Homo sapiens: one gene and its partners. The protein of the gene in region 1 interacts with the protein of each later gene in a pairwise test. Each region holds a gene or a part of one and is shown on either strand. Other genes may lie near its edges. The genes, in order: TLE2, PAX9 and BARHL1.

What was found.
Region 2: the proteins of TLE2 (region 1) and PAX9 interact in a two-hybrid assay, tested with the Homo sapiens proteins (one large-scale study listed by BioGRID and IntAct).
Region 3: the proteins of TLE2 (region 1) and BARHL1 interact in a two-hybrid assay, tested with the Homo sapiens proteins (one large-scale study listed by BioGRID and IntAct).

Annotation. Positions count from the first base shown.
Region 1 is NC_000019.10:3,019,250-3,022,903, reverse strand, and holds part of TLE2 (transducin-like enhancer protein 2), read left to right. Parts: intron 1-3,130; coding exon 3,131-3,205; intron 3,206-3,437; coding exon of another isoform or gene 3,438-3,440; coding exon 3,441-3,621; intron 3,622-3,654.
Region 2 is NC_000014.9:36,675,258-36,678,911, reverse strand, and holds part of PAX9 (paired box protein Pax-9), read right to left. Parts: intron 2,715-3,654; coding exon 2,460-2,714; 3' UTR 429-2,459; coding exon of another isoform or gene 428-428; 3' UTR 1-427. UniProt on the Homo sapiens protein: Transcription factor required for normal development of thymus, parathyroid glands, ultimobranchial bodies, teeth, skeletal elements of skull and larynx as well as distal limbs.
Region 3 is NC_000009.12:132,588,025-132,590,752, reverse strand, and holds the end of BARHL1 (barH-like 1 homeobox protein), read right to left. Parts: intron 1,526-2,728; coding exon 1,231-1,525; 3' UTR 501-1,230; downstream 1-500.

The DNA of each region.
Region 1 (3,654 bases):
CAGCAGCTTTCCCATTACAGTGACAGAGTTTGGTAGTTGCAACAGAGACCTCTGGCCTGCAGAGGGAAAATGTTTTCACTCTCTGGCCCTTTCTAGAAAGTCTTCCAACCCATCCTACACACACCCACACACAGGTGCACCCCCATGGGAGCTCTGTATCCGCATCCTGATACCTCCTTGGTGGAGACAGCCCAGATGTCTGTCTTCAGGAGCGTGTATACACAAGCAGCCTCAGAGTGCATACAGTGGAATATACTACTGTTCCGCTATCCTACACGGCAGTCACCAGCCCCGTGTGATCATTTACACTTAGGTTAACTATTAATAATATTTAAATCTATTATTTTTTTCCTTAAAAAAATTTTTTTTTTTTTTGAGACAGAGTCTTGCTCTGTCGCCCGGGCTGGAGTGCAATGGCACGATCTCAGCTCACTGCAATCTCTGCCTCCTGGGTTCAAGCGATTCTTCCACCTCAGCCTCCCGAGTAGTTGGGATTACAGGCACCCACCATCATGCCGGCTAGTTTTTGTATTTTTGTAGATGGGGTGGGGGGGTGGTTTCACCATGTTGGCCAGGCTGGTCTTGAACTACTGACCTCAGGTGATCCATCTGGCTCGGCCTCCCAAAATGCTGGGATTACACGCGTGAGCCACCGCACCTGGCCTAAAAAAATTTTTTTTTACAAAAATTAGCTGGGTGTGGTGGCAGGTGCCTGTAATCCCAGCTACTCGGGAGGCTGAGGCAGGAGAATTGCTTGAACCTGGGAGGCGGAGGTTAGCGTGAACCGAGATCACGCCACTGCATTCCAGCCTGTGCGACAGAGTGAGACTCCGGCTTAAATAAGTATATATGTATAATGTAACAGAGAGGGAGTCTCACCATGTTGCCCAGGCTGGTCTCAAACTCCTGGACTAGCGTAATCCTCCCACTCCAGCATCCTAAAGTACTGGGATTACAGGCATGAGCCACTGCGCCCGACCTGAAATCTATTAAGTTAATTTTATATTTAAATTTATATTTAGGCTGGGCGCAGTGGCTCACACCTGTAATACCAGCACTTTGGGAGGCTGAGGGGGGCAAATCACTTGAGATCAGGAGTTCAAGACCAGCCTGGTCAACATGGTGAAACCCCGTCTCTACTAAAAGTATGAAAATTAGTTGGGTGTGGTGGTGCGCACCTGTAATCTCACCTACTTGGGAGGCTGAGGCAGGAGAATTGTTTGAACCTGGGAGGCGGAGGTTGCAGTGAGCCAAGAGCATGCCATTGCACTCCAGCCTGGGCAACAGAGTGAGACTACGTCTCAAAAAAGTAAAAATAAAAATAAGCCTATTAAATTTATTTTATATTTAAACTTGTATTCACTTAAATTTAATAAAATTAATCATTCTATTCATCAGTTGCACCAGCCACATGTCAAATGCCTGGTGGCCACACACATGGCCAGTGGCTTCTGTGTGGAACAGCAAAAATACAACATTTTCTTTCTTTCTTTTTTTTTTGAGACTGAGTCTCGCTCTGTCACCCAGGCGGGAGTGCATGGCACGATCTTGGCTCACTGCAATCTCTAACTCCCGGGTTCAAGTGTTTCTCCTGCCCCAGCCTCCCGAGTAGCTGGGATTACAGGTGCATGCCACCATGCCTGACTAATTTTTGTATTTTTAGTAGAGATGGGGTTTCACCATCTTGGTCAGGTTGGTCTCGAACTCCTGATCTCGTGATCCACCTGCCTCAGCCTCCCAAAGTGCTGGGATTACAGGTGTGAGTCACCACGCTCAGCACCCCCCCCCCTTTTTTTTTTTTTTTTTTTTTTTTTTGAGACTGGGTCTCACTCTGTCTCCCAGGCTGGAGTGCAGTGGTGCAATCTTGGCTCACTGCAACCTGTGCCTCTTGGGTTCAAGTGATTCTCCTGTGTCAGCCTCACGAGTAGCTGGTATTATAGGCACCCGCCGCCACGTCTGGCTAATTTTTTTTGTATTTTTAGTAGAGATAGGGTTTCACCATGTTGGCCAGGCTGGTCTTGAACTCCTGACCTCAAGTGATCCACCTGCCTTGGCCTCCCAAAGTGCTGTGATTACAGGCATGAGCCGCCGCGCCCGGCTCAGATATAACATTTTCTCGCAGCAGAGTCCCACAGCTCTGAAAGCTGAATATGCTGCCGCCACCCACCACATCATGGAAGAAGCTTAAAATGTTATGCTGAGAGGCCAGATGCCAAAGAGAACTCAGAGAATGAGCCCACAACGTAGTTGAAAACGGACAAATCCACGCAGGTTTAGGAAGGCGATCGTAGGAGGCAGAATTATACAGAAAAACAAAGAAATTATTGTCATGAAGGTGGAGGAGGGAGGGTGTTCTGATGGCAGGGAGTGTAGGGGGCCCCTGGAGTCTGGTACTTTCTGTTCCTTAACCTAGGAGAAGGGTCCATGGTGCCGATTTATCACAGTGTTTTTTTTTTCTTGGGGGTAGTTTTACCACCAGGAGACGTCTGTGGTTGTCACAACTGGGGGTGCCCCTGGCATGGAGTGGGTGGAGGCCAGGGATGCTGCTCGGCTCCTTGTAGTGCCTGGAACAGCCCCGCCCCAGAGAACAATCCAGCCCCAGATGTCTTTGGTTCTTCGATGCTCCAAAGGAGAGACTGTGATTTGTAATATATATATATTTTTTCTTGAGACAGAGTCTCGCTCTGTCACCCAGGCTGGAATGCATTGGCACGATCTCGGCTCACTGCAACCTCCACCTCCCGGGTTCAAGCGATTCTCCTGCCTCAGCCTCCTGAGTAGCTGGGATTACAGGTGTTTCACCATGTTGGCCAGGCTGGTCTCGAACTCCTGGCCTCAGGTGATCTGCCCACCTCAGCCTTCCAAAGCGCTGGGATTCCAGGCGTGAGCCACCATGCCCGGCCTGATTTGTAACTATTCTACCTGCACTTAGGTTTGGTTTCTTTCTCCGTGTGCTTATTTCAAAATTCCAAAAGGAAAGGGAGAGAGTGAGAGGGAAAAAGATAAAAGAGAAATGGGAAGTACCGGGGCAAAGATGAGAGGGTGGCGGGGAGAGGTCAGGTCCCCAAGGGCACCGCTAGCATGAGCAGGGGCTCAATGTACCCTCTACCTGATCCCTTCCACCCGCCAGCATCAGCAGCAGGTGCTCCAGGCCGTAGAACGCGCCAAGCAGGTCACCGTGGGGGAGCTGAACAGCCTCATCGGGGTGAGTCTCTCTAGCCCCTGCCCCGCCATGGGGAGACGCCCACTCCCAGGTCCCTGGCACCCACCCAGGAGGTGTTAAAGCTGGGGTGGTGTGTGGGCCTTGGCTCCAGTGGTCCTGGGAACCCCAGGGGCACATGCTGTGCTTAGGTCCCATCCCCTGTGTCTACCTCTTGGGCTGGGGACCGCTGGGCTCCTGCCGCCCCCCGCCCCGGCCCATCCTGCCTCCTTTCTAGCAGCAGCAGCTCCAGCCGCTGTCCCACCACGCACCCCCTGTGCCCCTCACCCCCCGCCCAGCCGGGCTGGTGGGCGGCAGTGCTACGGGGCTGCTTGCTCTGTCTGGAGCCCTGGCTGCCCAGGCTCAGCTGGCGGCGGCTGTCAAGGAGGACCGTGCGGGCGTGGAGGCCGAGGGGTCCAGAGGTGAGTGGGCAGCACGGGGTGGCATTGGCTGGG
Region 2 (3,654 bases), on another chromosome or scaffold:
TATTTTAAAAAGTGGCTTTAAATCATAATTTTCTTTGAATAGCAAATTGTATCTGATATCTTTTAAAAATTACTCCATGTGAATTCACTGTTAAGACCTAGAGGGAGAAAAGGAAACTTCAATACCATTAATATTAGATTTTTTAAAATACAAGAACCAGAAAAAAATTATAAATAGCACAATAACAAGAGATTTCTTAATTTAGATAAAGAAAATAACATTATTTGCATTTCCACACAAGCAAGTAATATTTTTTAAAGCCCCCTAACAGCCACCTAAAAACATTTGATAAAGAATAGTTCTGTACCTTACATCAGTTTTTCAGATGACAGGAGAGTCCCTGTATGGTATGGTTTTAAAGAAGTCTCCACCAAAATATTGGATTGGATCTTTGTTCCATTCAGTTTATAGTCTATTTTCTCACCAGACTGGGAACTCCAGATGTCAATGGAAGTTTTACAAGATCAAAGGAAGACTATGGCCCTGAGAGTTCATCTGCTCCTTCTGCTTATTCTTCTCCTGAAGTTATAATCCTCTATTTGTAGCACTGAATTTCGGTTGCTTTAGAAATAAATGCAGTTCAAAGCTCTCTATAAGATATCTGCTGTCTGAAAAAAGCAGTCACTCTAACATAATTTGTGTGTCAGAAATCTGCTTACTGTTTACATCCTAGTGATTTGAAAACCTAACTAATCTAGCCATCTGAGTTTTAAACGAAGCCACGAAACCGATGTGGTGGAACCGCATTGCCATGTAGACTGTGCACAGCACAGACCGGAAGAAATTAAAATCACCTAGGGAATCCATCTTCAACATCCATATCCAGTGAGGTGCTCTTTTAGTTATTGCACAGAATTAGTACCAAAAAACCCTCAATATATTAATTTTCCAACAGCTGAATTGTACCAATGTCCTAAAAACATATTTTTAAGCCTATATTGCCAAACAGGAAGAACTTCCTAAACAGAAGGGATTAAAAACTGTAGAATTTTGCCCCAGAAAATCAATTGTTTTAAAATACAACACATACTCACATGCTCACACACACATATACTCCACAACTGTTATTAACATTAAAGTGAAAAATAAATTGGTCTAGAAAGGTTTATGAGTTAAACTGTGTCCTGTAATTTCAGAAATGAATAAAGGGAATTTGTTAAAATTAAATAACATTGTATTTCTAGTACCACCACCAGTTTACCTACATGCGAAACATGCTTCTGTACAACAATGTAAACTTCACAGCAAGCCATTGTTACATTCATTAGAGCAGAATTTTCCATTTTCTTTAAATTACAACATTATTTGGGGCTGAGATTGCTGAACACACAGGTAAGCCAACAATAATAGGACAATTTAGTTTCACAGTGGTTTTCTTAACACAAAGTTCATTTTAAGCATCTTTGCAAAACATTTCACATTAAACTTAAGTTTCTAAGTGACTTCCTTTAGAGCCTTCTTGTTCAGATATTTTCCACCCTCTTGTCTTTATATGCTTAGCATGTGTGTTGTTTGATTAGGTACAAAATGGGAGACTGGCTTGTTTTATCTGTTTTTCGTGTCCTCTGCTGTAGAAATAAAGTGTCCTTCATGAGATGTTGAAGCCTTCACTGCATACACAAAATTTGGGGGCAAGTCCAGGTCCAGGAGCCCGAGCAGCCCACCACCAAACAGAGACAAAGACGTTGCCAGAAAGTCACCTTTGCAAAAAAGAAAGAAAAAAATAGAGAGGGGGTGGGGCTGAGGGGAGGGGAATATCTTATGGAATGAAGACACAAATGCACCATCCAGAGTCCGTATTTACAAACTAATAGAAAATATAAACATTATTGTATTTGGAACCAAGTCAAAACACCAGGGAGAGCTAGATTCAGATATTGCTTGGGTTCTACATATATTTTTCAACAAAATAGGTCATGTCTTAAACAAAGGATCACTCAAACAAGTCACTTATTGATTTGTTTCCTAATGATGAATTAAAGCTTACTTGGTTACCATATTTGATTAGAGGGTGTAGCATAATTTTTTCTATAAGTATTTTCCTTTATTGATTTTGCAAAATCTCAACAATTGCACATTTCAAAAGTTCAGGTTGATTTAGAATAAATATACACATGTGGTTTTACCAAAGACTAGTTTGTAAAGTTCCTTAAACCCTTTGAGGGGTGTAGGTTTCTTTGTTATGTTAAGACAGTATGTGGGCAACACAAATGTCTCATTCAATGCTTATTGTTGCTCTTGTTTTTAAATCCTAAAGTCATGTCAGTTTTTCTGCAAGAGAAAAGTTATGGCAAGAAATATGTAAGTGTCATTAGCACAAAGGATGTGAGTCCGTACAGCCAGCTTTCAAGGCAGAAGGGTTGGAGGGCAGGAGGGGTGGGATGTGAGACCTGGGAATTGGGGGAGGAGGTGCTGAGACAGGGAGACCCGGGTGAAGCTGCTGGAGACGGAATTTCCCATCAGAGCGCGGAAGCCGTGACAGAATGACTACCTTCTCTGGCTGCCTGCATTCCCTTGAACGCCAGCGATGCCGGAATGTCACAGTTGTGGGGAGACAATGAGGTGCCCCCAGCATGTTGCCACCCATGTCCAGCAACATAACCAGAAGGAGCAGCACTGTAGGTCATGTAAGGCGACACTTGGGCTGGGGTAGGGTAAGGAGCCATGCTGGATGCTGACACAAAACTGCCCACAGCTGGGAGACCATTTGGTGCCTGAGAGGAGTAGAAAAGAAGTGAAAAATAATCACATTATAGGAGTGAACATTTCACACGTTCTTAGAAAGAAGCAGAACTTAAGTCTGAGTAAGCCAGCAATGCTCTGACTCTACTCTCCAACTTTTTAAAAAAATTTGAGCTTTATTATATTCTAAAGACATTCACAGTCTTGCCACTTAAACAAACATAATGACAAGATATTATTCTTTCCACAAACATTTAGAGAAAGCTGCAACCAGAAAATTCGTAGTATTTGCTTGTGCCACTTGGAAGTACAGGAAGGAGGTGCAGGGTGAGAAAAGAATTAATGGCAATTAAATACTCTTAGAATCTGTTCGGCTGTCCTCATTGCCTTTGTCAACCTTCCTGGGACTTGGGTTTTGTTTGGCTCTTTTGTTGAGGCACTTGTGACAGGCCTGGTTGGTATAACTTTCATTTTCAGTAAAGAAGGGCACAGACTGCAGCCTGTCATGTTAGAAACGCACAACAAACACGACCTTCGTTAAAGAAAATATAGACCATATTTTAAGAGATCATATTGAAAATGCCCGTTGGACAAAGGACATACAAAAATCAGGCACTTTGTCTTGTAAGGATTTTTAAATGAATATTGCAAGTGCCTTTTCCAGGACTGTTTTATCAGAAAGGAAACTGTCTTTCCCCATATAAAAGAACTGCATATGCCTGGTTTTGAAACTGGAAATTTTGCTTGCAAAGTTTTTGGGTCCTGTGATGTGAGTTTTTAAAAGCCACGTGGATAAATCTCTTGAAGTGAATTTAGAAATTAAAATCTTTGTTTGCAAACACAATGCAGCAGTCCCGGCAGGCGAGCCTGCCGAGAAACCAGTGCTGTCTTGGCATCCAGTGAATTATTGTTGGTATCGTTACTATTAACAACACTAAAAACACCCTGATTTTTAATCCTGATTCTGGCATG
Region 3 (2,728 bases), on another chromosome or scaffold:
GAGCGCGGCCGGACGCTGGGCGGAGGGTGGGAGTGATGGGGGGAGCAGCCTCGGAGCCCATCTGTCGGCCCGCGCCCGGCGGGCCGGTCACCAGCTGCCGGGGCCCTTGTCGCGGCCAGATGAGTCGGCTCGGCGAGGGCCCCGCAGCCCGGCCCGCAGCCGACCGAGGCCCCGCGCTGACCCCCGCCTGTTCCGGCACGGACCCCCGCCCCGGCCCTCGGGACCGTCTGGGAGCCGCTAGGAACCAGATGGAGACAGAGGAGGAGGAGGGGAACAACGAGCTGGCCTCGCTGTAGAGATGGGAAGACTGAGGCCAGGGAGGGGAGACCCGGGCCCCAGCGAGTCCCGTCGGGGCCCCCGCGCATGTCCACAGCACCGGGGAAGAGAAGGGGGACAAAAATGTTTCGTTATTGAGGATGGAAGGAAACCGAGTCCCCAGGAGAGGGATGGGAGAGGGGTTGAGTGCGGACCCAGCGACGCGAGCGCGGACAGGCGCCTGGTCATTTGTAAGAAGTTTATTTCGACATTTAAAAAAGAGAGAACCCGAGAGGCCTGGCTGCCCCCGGACCGGGGCTGAGGCTGGGGGCTGGGGTCGGGGTGGGTGGGCAAGCCCCCTTGGCCCCTTCCTGCCCCGCCTGGGAGTGGGGAGGGCACAGGCCACAGACTCACTAATCCACGGACACGGTCACGGGCTCATGGGTCACGAATAAATAACTTCATATACACTTTGCACACGGTATGTACAGCTCAGCCGCTGGCCCAGGTGCTCGAGGGGTAGGGAGACGGGGCTCCGCACTCCCCTTCTCTCCCTGGCGGGGGCGCGGGGAGAGGGGCTGTTCTCCACCTGGAGCGTAGAAGGGGCGTGGGAGAGAGCGAAGCCTGGGAATCAGCCGCACCCGCTCCTGGGGAGAAAGGGGTTGCCTAGGGGAGCCGGCAGAGGCTGGGGGTGGGGAGTGGCAGAGACGCGTATGTACACCCGGCGGGTGGGGATGGCTCCCGGACAGAGCGGCCGCGAGAGAGGACGCCGAGGGGGGCTGGGGAGACGCAGTCCGGGGTCCGGGCCTCAGTGGACTTGGCATTTGGCCCTTCGGGGGGCACTGGGCTGGGGCGCCAGGGAGGGCCGGGCAGGGCCCCCTCCCGGGAAAGGGCGTCGAACCTGCGCCCTCAGAAAGGCGGGCGGAAGGGGCCACGCCGAGCCCGCGGGAGGAGGCCCCGGAGCCGACGGGCGCCTCACCGAGGCTGCGCGGCGCGTGGGAGGACGCCGGCCAGGGGGGGCAGCGGCGGGGGCGGCTCGCTGGCGCCCTGGAGTCCGTGGATGAGGATGCGGGGCACCAGAGGTCTCTGGAGAGCAGGCGGCGGCGCGCTGGGGCCGCGGTACAGGTAGAGCGCCGCGCCGGGGTCCAGGTTGGAAACCAGACTCTGCGGGTAGAAATAAGGCGACGGGAACATCCGCTGGAGCGCTGAGTAATTGCCTGCCTCCGCCAGCAGCTCCAACCCGACGGCCGTCTGTCGCTTCCATTTAGTCCTGGGGGCCGAAATAAACGCGTATGGCGGGATCAGGGCTAGGGCATCCAGCGACCCCAGCCCCTCCCCACTGCTTGGCCCAGAGAGCCTGTAGGGAGGCCAAGAGGGATCGTACTCATTTGTTAATAAATAACCGAGTGCCAGGCACCATCGCACGCCTTACGTGCATCCTCTCCTTTTATCTTCCACCGGCCTTCCGTGGCTCTTACCCCACTTTACAGAGAGGAAAACTGAGGTCTGGGCCGGTTTTCAAAAAGGAGCCTGGGTTTTAAGCCCTGCTGTCTGACCCCAAAGCCCGGCTCTAACTGCGCCTTACCCTGCCCAGGAGATCGCAGAACGAACCCTTGGAGCTGGGTAGGGGGTGCTCCTCCCTGCGCGTGCCTCTTTATGAAGGTAGGATCACCCTGGAGAGGCCTGAGGGGATGGGGGGGTGCTCTTCAGGGAAGGGAATGCGATTGATTCCTCTGCAGGCTGGCCGGGCTGCAAGCTAGCAGAAGCGAGCAGGCCTGAAATGGCAACCGGAGAGGACCCGCTCCCGGCTCGCACGCCCTGCCGGCTGGAGCAGGCTGCACCTGCCATCCTCCAGGGCTCGCACTGCGAGCCCTGCGCACTGTCTGGCCCCAAAGTCCAGAGGCCTTGGCCAGCCAACGGCCTGGGGTTTGGAGAAGTCAGGCCTGGACCCTAGGCTCACCTGCAGGTGAGGCTAGGCGGACCAGCCAGGGTCCCACTAAGGTGGGCTCAGCCACACCAGCCCTGTTTCCCTCCCTGAATTATTCATCATCATCATAATTGTGTAATTACTGTAACAGGCCTTAATTATTGATGCCCGGAGCAGTAATCAGTATTTATTATTAATGGGGCGATGTGTTCTGAGGCTTGTTTATGAAAAGCACCATTCCTGCCTCTGCTAAGAGCGTGCGAGTGACTGTGGGGCTGAGCGTGCGTGCGTGTGTGACTGCAAGTTGTATTGATGTGTGTGTCGGTGTGTGGCTATTTGGGTTGAGTGTGTGGATGCCTCTGTGTTTGTACATTTGCATCTACGTCTGGTGAGTGTGTTCGGGAGGGAAATTAGGAAACGAGTTCAAGTCCGGTGCCCCAACACCCACTTCCCAGTCACCCTGTCCCCAAGGAACAAGGGCTTGGCCAGTTCCCCCCTCGGGTTTTGGGACCAGAAAGGCTGGGGAGGCCTGAAGAGCCTCACAGA